Homo sapiens: one gene and its partner. The gene in region 2 interacts genetically with the main gene of each other region. Each region holds a gene or a part of one and is shown on either strand. Other genes may lie near its edges.

What was found.
Region 1: changes in COPE (region 2) and WDR7 together harm fitness more than expected from each alone (negative genetic interaction), as found in Homo sapiens cells (one large-scale study listed by BioGRID).

What each region holds. Positions count from the first base shown.
Region 1 is NC_000018.10:56,654,359-56,658,013, reverse strand, and holds part of WDR7 (WD repeat-containing protein 7), read right to left. Parts: intron 1-3,655.
Region 2 is NC_000019.10:18,901,641-18,907,088, forward strand, and holds part of COPE (coatomer subunit epsilon), read right to left. Parts: coding exon 5,320-5,448; intron 4,296-5,319; coding exon of another isoform or gene 4,227-4,295; intron 3,990-4,226; coding exon 3,936-3,989; intron 3,213-3,935; coding exon 3,131-3,212; intron 1,784-3,130; coding exon 1,628-1,783; intron 1-1,627. UniProt on the Homo sapiens protein: The coatomer is a cytosolic protein complex that binds to dilysine motifs and reversibly associates with Golgi non-clathrin-coated vesicles, which further mediate biosynthetic protein transport from the ER, via the Golgi up to the trans Golgi network.

The DNA.
Region 1 (3,655 bases), on a different chromosome or scaffold from region 2:
CTGACCAGTGCCCTAACATTCGTTGTTCCAACATTTTATGGCTCCCACTAACTCAAGTAATCAACAGCCAAAAAAAAAAACCCCTGTAATTTCATTAAACGTCACCAACATAGTTTGAAAAAAAATCCAATTTTATTTAAAATAGTAAATACTTCATGAATGTAATATATATGTTCCTTAATAGAAAGGAAGTAAAAATTTCCTTGGACTCACAAGGACTTTCTGAATGCAGTCATGATGTAGGATTTCTTCTTCCAACATAATTGTTTGTGTTCTTTTGTATTCAGCAAAGCAGCTTTAAGAATCAGATACAGACAAAGACAAACGAACCATATGGATGGAATTCAAATTGTAAGTTAACATTACTATCATAGTACCTGTCAGTGAGAACATGTCCTCTTATTGATGGCAGAATTTCACTGAGCTATCCATAGCTCTCAGCTGATTTTGCCTATGATCAATGGCATGCACATATGTAAGACTATTAATTCTTCAAAAAGTGCATGAATTAAATGGACAAAAATGAGAACAGAACCTACAAACCTCACTAACTCCATAATTTAATTGCCAGGCATGGTGGCTCACGCCTGTAATCCCAGCACTTCAGGAGGCCTAGGTGGGAGGATAACCTGAGGTCAGGAGTTTGAGACCAACCTGGTGAAACCCCATCTCTACTAAAAATACAAAAATTGGCCGGGTGTCCTGGCGGGCACCTGTAATCCCAGCTACTAGGGAGGCTGAGGCAGGAGAAACGCTTGAACTTGGGAGTTGGAGGTTGCAGTGAGCTGAGATCACACCACTGCACTCCAGCCTGGGCAACAGAGTGAGACTCCATCTAAAAAAAAAAAAAAAGTCCCAACAAATTAAAAAACTGTCACAGGGAGATGTAACAGATAAACCCAGGAATAAAGGCACTACATAGTTCCAGGCCTCACTCTACACGCACTAAAATTACTTCAAGATTTACACTATGAATTTTGATTTCTGTCTAGTAGAACACAAAAAGACAAAGGTAGATTATCAATATATGAAAATCAATAGCATTTTCTTGTATCAGCACTAATCTACTTAAAAAATAGTATACCATTCACAGTATTTTTATAAACTACAATATTTTACTCAAAGTCATAAGTGAAAGACCATTCCATGTTCTCAGATAAAATGTCCTAATATTATAAAGATATCAATTTTCCTCAAAATAAATCTGTAAGTCAAAGTTCTACTGGTATTGTTTTTAGAAACTCAAACTAACTCTAAAATACATAGGAAAGAATAAAAATACATAAATAGCTGAGCCAAACTTTGAAAATGGGCAAAGATGAGAGAAAGTGCTCTACCAGATATTTAACATCACTAGCTAATTTGGGAAATGCAAATTAAGACCACACTGAGATATCATCACACATCAGAACAGTTAAAAAAAAAAAAAATAGTGGCCGGGCGCAGTGGCTCACATCTATAATCCTAGCACTTTGGGAGGCTGAGGCGGGCAGATTGCCTGAGCTCAGGAGTTCGAGACCAGCTTGGGCAACATGGTAAAACCCCATCTCTACTAAAATGCAAAAAATTAACTAGGTGTGGTGGCATGCGCTTGTAGTCCCAGCTACTCGGGAGGCTGAGGCAGGAGAATTGCTTGAATCTGGGAGGCGGAGGTTGCACTGAGCCAAGATTGCGCCACTGCACTCCAGCCTGGGTGACAGAGCAAGACTCCATCTCCAAAAAAAAAAAAAAAAACAGTGACAGTATCAAATGCTAGTGGAAGACGATGCAAAGAAATGCAATCTCTCATACATTCCTGGTAGAAATGTAAAATGGTACAACCACTCCAGAAAACACTTTGGGAGTTACTTCAAAAACTAAACATACACTTACCATACCATCCAGCAACCATGTCCCTGGGCATTTATCCCCCAAAAAATGAAAATTTAAATCCATACGCACACACACACACAAAACTGTACAAGAATGTTCACAGCAGCTTTATCTGTAACAGCCAAAAATTAAAAACAGCCCAGATATGCAGGTGAATGGTTAAACTTGGATACATACGTACCATGGAATACTACTCAACAATTAAGAAGTACAAACTATTGATAAATGCAACAATTTGGATGAACCTCAAGAACTGTCTCATTCAACAATGTTGATGAATCTCAAGAACTGTCTCATTCAACAATTTGGATGAATCTCAATTTCAAAAGATTACATGCTATAGGATTCCATTTATATAGCACTCTGGTAATGACAAAATTATAGAGATAGAAACTGATTAAACTGATTAAGGGATGGTGAGGGTAAGGGAGGTGGATGAAACTAGAAAGAGGTAACATGAAGAAAATCTTTGTAGTGATAGAATAGTTCCATATCTTCTTCCTCTTTTTTTTTTTTTTTTTTTGAGACAGGGTCTTACTCTGTCCCAGGCTAGAGTGCAGTGGCATAATCACAGCTCACTGCAGCTTCAACCTTCCCAGGCTTAGGTGATCCTCCCACCTCAGCCCCCCAAGTAGCTGGGACTACAGGCATGCACAACCACACCAGACTAATTTTCGTATTTTTTGCCAGAGACGGGGTTTTGACATGTTGCTGGTCTCAAACTCCTGGGCTCAAGCAATCTGCCTACCTCAGCCTCCCAAAGTGCTGGGACTACGGGCATGGTCAACCACATCAGCCTAGCTCTGTATCTTGATTGCAGAGGTAGTTGCAGGAATCCACACAGGTGATAAAATGGCACAGAACTATACACAGGCATTGTACAAAATCAATTTATTGGTTTTGATACTGTACTACAGTGGTATAAATTGTAACTATTGAGGGAAGTTCCTTGGGTGAAGCTGCATAAAATGTAACCACTGGAGGAAACCAGACCTCTCTTTACTATTTGTGCAACTTCCTATGAACCTATAATTATATCAAAATAAAGTTAAAACAAAATAAATGGGAAGAGTTATTTATATAGGAGGAAAAAACATACTACTACAAAACCATAGAGTTAAAACAGTATAGTGTTAGAGCAAGAACAGACAAACCAAAGGAAAGGACTCAATATTCAGAGTATATATGAGCACTTAATACACAGTGTGACACCATATCTATGGGAAAAGGGAAGAAAGATGCCAGGAAAACTGGCACAGTACATGGAAAATAAACTGGATCACAAACTTGTGACACATAAAAAGTTAAACTCTGCATGTATTAAAGACCAATAAGTTTAAAAGAAAACTATGAATTAGCAGTACATAACATAGCAGAGTAACTTTGTGGCACAGCACTGGGGAAAGATTTCTTAAACAAAACCTCCAAAATACAACCATATAGCCAAAAGATTTTTTAATTTGATTATATCAAAATATAAGATTTCTGTTCAATGAAGAACATCATGAGAAAGATTACAGACAAATGACAGATTAGGAACAGATACACTTGTAATACTTAAATGATTAGTATCTATGGAATACAAGAAATGTCCGCAAATCAACAAGAAAGAACTGAAACCCCAAAATAAAAATGGGTGAAGGGATGAACAGGCAATTTCACAAACAAAAAATTAAAAAAGATAAAACACACATGAAGAAATACTCAGATTCGGCAGGGCACGCTGGCTCATGCCTGTAATCCCAGCACTTTGGGAGGCTGAGGCAGGCAGATCACAAGGTCA
Region 2 (5,448 bases):
TTTCTCAGCTGGGCGCACTGGCGCATGTCTATCATCCCAGCACTTTAGAAGGCCAAGGAGGGTGAGAATTGTTTGAGCCCAGGAGTTCAAGACTAACCTGGACAACACAGTGAGACCCCATTTCTAACAAAAAATACAAAAATTAGCCACGCATGGTGGCATACCGTTTCAAAAAACAAACAAAAAACCCCCCAAAATTCGTTTCTCCAAAATGGAAAAAGCTTTGATGTCCTTTCTGATTATAAAAATAATAATCCAGGCTGGGCACAGTGGCTCACGCCTGTAATCCAGTACTTTGGGAGTCCAAGGTGGGCAGCATCATGAGGTCAGGAGATTGAGACCATCCTGGCTAACACAGCAAAACCCCATCTCTACTAAAAATACAAAAAATTAGCTGGGCATGGTGGTGGGCGCCTGTAGTCCCAGCTACTCGGGAGGCTGAGGCAGGAGAATGGCATGAACCCAGGAGGCAGAGCTTGCAGTGAGCCGAGATCACACCACTGCACTCCAGCCTGGGCGACAGAGCAAGACTCCATCTCAAAAAAAAAAAAAAAAAAAATCCACCAAGCATGGTGGCTCACACCTATAATCCTAATGCTTTGGGAGGCTGAGGTGGGACGATCACTTGAGGCCAGGAGTTCGAGACCAACCTGGGCAACACAGCAAGAACAACCCCGTCTTTACAAAATATATATATATTTTTAATTTAACATAACATAAACTCTTCATAAAGACTGCAGATGGCCAGGCGTGGTGGCTCACGCCTATAATCCCAGCACTTTGGGAGGCTGAGGCGGGTGGATCACCTGAGGTCAGGAGTTTGAGACCAGCCTGACCAACATGGCAAAACCCCGTCTCTACTAAAAATACAAAAATTAGCCAGGCGTGGTGGCAGCCGCCTGTAATCCCAGCTACTTGGGAGGCTGAGGCAAAAGAATCACTTGAACCCAGGAGGCGGAGGTTGCATTGAGCTGAGATCACACCACTGCACTGCAGCCTGGGTGACAGAGTGAGACTCCATCTCAAAAAAAAAAAAAAAGAAGAAAGGAAAGGAAGGAAAGGAAGGAAAGGAAGGAAAGGAAAGGAAGGAAAGGAAGGAAAGGAAGGAAAGGAAGGAAGGAAGGAAGGGAAAGAAGGAAGGAAGGAAGGAAGGAAGGAAGGAAGGAAGGAAGGAAGGAAGGAAGGAAGAAAAGACTGCAGACATCAGGCAGGAGATGACTGCAGCCACCCTGGGCAGGCAGCGCTCTCTCAACGAAGAGCTCCTGTCCACAGCACACTCTCCCCTACATAAGTACGGGGAGTGTCTCTCCAATACTGAGTATGTACTCAGGTGAGGGGTCCCACTTGCAGGTCCCGGGCCAGGCAGCTGAGGTGACAACAAGGACGGCTCAGACCACTGAGGCCCAGGCTGCCCAGATGCCCCATTTCTGTGAGGCCGGAATCTGGATTTCTTTGCAGGTGAGATCCCTGCTTTGTGGATCTCGCTGCTGACTGGGCCTTAGAAGCCCTGTGGGGCCACACGCACACCCAGGGGGTCTCTGCTACACTTGTTTCTGTCCGCCCTGACCCCACCCTCTGGCCGCCTGGCCTTCCCTCCGTCCCCACTCTGGGACAGGCTTGTGCCTACCTTGTCTAGCGCCTCCTGCAGCAGGCCCTCAGCGGCCTCCCAGCGGCCCTGGGCCATGTGGCAGGCCGCCTGCCCATTGAGCAGCAGCAGGGTGGGCGAGCACTTGTCAGCCATCTCCTGGAAGATGTAGTAGGCATCCTGCAGCTTCTCACCACCCTGCAGGGAGGGTCCCGCATCATTGCCTGTGCCCCTGCTGCCCGGCCCTTCCCCCGCCAGCCCCCTCCCCTAGCGGGGGGGACTCCAGCACTGCACAGAGACGAATCTGGTGTGCCCGGTTCAAGGCACAGCCACTCCGCCATGGGGACTACCCGTAACTTGTACTCTGCTGATGGGGCCTAAAGACTCGTGGCCGCCTCCTGCCCCACCTCCCACCCAGCTCCCGGAGTGCTGAGTACACAGAGGTGGAATCTGGGGCTTCCAAGGCCTCAGTGCACAGGTGGCTGGCTCAGGGTCTGAGTGGGGACCACTGGGTCACTGAGCACGTCAGAGGAGGAGGAGTCAGCTCTGTGACCAGCAGCCCTGACCTGTCCACTTGCTCAGAACAGCAGAACACTTGCAGGGGGAGCCTGAGGCCAAGGCAGGCAGTGAAAACAGCCCAAACTACCCGATAGGTCTGCCGGGGCCTGTCCTACCATACTAGACGGTCACTGGAAGTCTGTCTGGGTGAGGCTTCAGCCCCGTGGCGGGCAGGGACGGGGAGCACATTTTTTTTTCTTTCTCAGAGTTTCACTCTTGTTGCTCAGGCAGGAGTGCACTGGCGCGATCTTGGCTCACCGCAACCTCCACCTCCCGGGTTCAAGCGATTCTCCTGCCTCAGCCTCCTGAGTAGCTGGGTTTACAGGTGCATGGCACCAAGCCCAGCTAATTTTGTATTTTTGGTAAAGATGGGGTTTCTCCATGTTGGTCAGGCTGGTCTAGAACTCCCAACCTCACATGATCCACCCGCCTCGGCCTCCCGAAGTGCTGGGATTACAGGCGTGAGCCACTGCGACCAGCCAGGAAGCACATTTTAATAGGCCCACACAAAAGAGTGGCTCAGAAGGGGGCCAAGTCCCAGAAACCAGGAGAGGGGCTGTTGCCGGGCGGAGGTGCCCAGGCCTGGGAGCTGAGGACATCTCCACCGCTGCTATGGGAACACTGAACTCCGTCCCTGGCTGGCGACCAGGACCCTGGAGAGCAAAGCTGAGTCGCAGAAAACCCCAGGAAGCCCTGAGGGGAGGAGGGCCTGCCAGGCCAACCCAGACCCTCGAGTACCCCTGTGCCTCAGGCTCAGGAACCCGTCCCCGCCCCCACCATCTCTTCGCTCTGGCTCTGGCCAAGTCGCTTGGCTGTGAGAAGCCCGGAATGGAGTCAAGGCTGAGTTATGCCAGGCTGGCAGGGGCCACGGCCTGATCCTGGAGCCCCACTGGAGTGGCCAGCAGCCTACGCACAGGTGGGGGTGCCCACAGACCCTGCTCAGCCAGGTGCCCGCAATGCCCACCCACCTCATGGCCTAGGGCTCACCGTGGCCAGGCTGACCCAGGCAGTGGCGAGCTGGGTGAGGGTGGCATCCTCGTCCAGGTCCTGCATTCTCTTCAGCTCCTTCCTGGGGCGGGGACAGATGACAGAGGGGCTGAGTGGCCGAGGGCCCTGGCCTGGCCATCCCTGCCTTGTCCCCACTTGGGGCCCACCGGAGCCTGGGGATGGCCCCTGCTTTGTGCTCCACTGCATGCTCATACCCCACGACTAAGTGCCCGAGCCACCCTGCCCGTCTGACCACGTGCAGGCCCTGGGAAGGTGGGACTGGGGCCAGCTATGGCCCCCCAGGGTGGCCACCACAAGGTAGAGCTCAGGAGAGACTCACTCCATGGAGGATGGAACGCAGGGAAGGGCAACGGAACTACAGTGTGAACAACTCTGAGGCAAGGGCTTTGGAAACGGCAGCAGGGGAGTCCTGGACCCCCAGCCATGGCCTCCGACCTGGTGATGCCACGTGCAGGCCCCGCCAGCCCCACGGCACAGTTACAAGCTGGTCAAGTAACATGTTGCTCCAGGCACAACCTCCACTCTCCCTCCATGAAGCCCACCCTCACCCTGTGGGAGAGGCCTGCCACCCACTGCATAGAGAGAAACTGAGGCACAGAGAGCCATGGCCCTCCTCCCTGGCAACATACTGCAGGGAAGGGCTGAACGACAGCAAGCCACCCCCATGGAAAGGAAAGACAACAAGAGTAATGACAGCACCACAGACGCTCTGGGCTGTGACGCTCTGGGCTGTGACGCTCTGGGCTGTGGCTCAGTGCGGGTGGAGAGGGGCAGGAGGGCTCACCGGGCGAGGTCCAGGCGGTCCAGCTTCAGCAGGATCTGCACTGTCATGGCTGTGCTGCAGGACAGGGCGAGGGGGCGGTCAGCGGGTCGCCACAGACACATTGCATGGCCGCTCCACACCCAGGGCTCACTGTGTGTGTCTGGGATGTTCCTAAGTCCTGTGCTTAGGACCACCAGCCCCGCCCAGCAGAGGAGGACACCCTCACTCCCACATTTCACCGCTCAGCTTCCTCAGGCCCAGGAGCTCTGGGGGAGGTACCCAGGATGGGGTTTCAGGCCCCGGCCCACTCACCGCCCATCTGGAGAAGCAGCCTCCATGGGCTGTGCTTCCAGATGGAGGGCCCTGCCCGGACTCGACACCCTGGAGGCATCAACACTCAGGAACAAGGCCCTAGAGGAGGGCCACGCACCCGCCCCTGCACCTGCACCTGCAGCAGAGCCCTGGGGCCACCCACTCTCTGCAGGCCCCCTCGTCCCCTCATCCCTCTCAGCCCCAGGTGGCTGTGACCACGAATTACTCGTGAGGCCTCTTGTTCTTGTTTTCCTGCCAACAGGAGCCAGCACCTGGACCAGCACCGAGTCGGCCGGCTCGCCGACAGTGTGACATCCCTATTTATTTTCTTTTTTGTGTGTGAGTCAGGGTCTGGCTCTGCCACCCAGGCTGGAGTGCAGTGGCACCATCACGGCTCACTGCAGCCTCCACCTCCCAGACTCAAGGGATACTCCTGCTTCCGCCTCCCAAGTAGCTGGAAACATAGGTGCATGTCACCATGCCTGGCTCGCCCTGCAATTCTAAGCCCTCTGTGGATGGAGGTGGGATGGGAGCAGATCCACAGCGACCATGAAATGCCCAGCTTGCAACTCACAGTGGAAGGCAGGCACTGCAGGGACAGCTCACGGGGAAGAACTGACACACTTTCTGTGACCAGTGCCCTGGACATGGCCCGGAGTCACATCCTAGGGTGGAGGGGGGCACCAACCTTGCAGGGCTTCAGCACCCCAACCCCAGAGGGCCCTGGAGGAGGGCCGGTATGGGGGGCCCGGGGAGGCCTGAGAGACTGGGCCCAGGGCCGAGACACAGAAGGCTTCGTGGGGGGTGGGGACACAGAAACCGAGCAGAGACAAAGCCGCTTTCTGCTCTGCCCTTGGGAACAGAGGGTTGCAGCCTGGGCACCGTGTCCTTGGATCTGCAGCCTGGTGCGCAGATGGGAGTGCCTCCCACACTGGGCAGGGGAGCTGGAGCCTGGACAGCAGGCCAGGGCCTCATTTCAGCACCACCTTTCTCTGCTCCCATGACGACAGCCAGCGAGGCCGTGCGCAGCCTGGAGATGTGGCAGGGGGCACTTGCCTCCCTGGGCTGGCCCCAGAGCAGGGAGGCCACTCACCACTCCAGGCTGTCCCCCTGGTGCAGCGCACGCAGGGCGGCATCCGGGTTCTGGTCGTGGAGATAGATGGAGGCGGCCATGAGCAGGAAGGTGGTGTTGGTCACGTCCACGCTCCTGCTCATCTCTCGG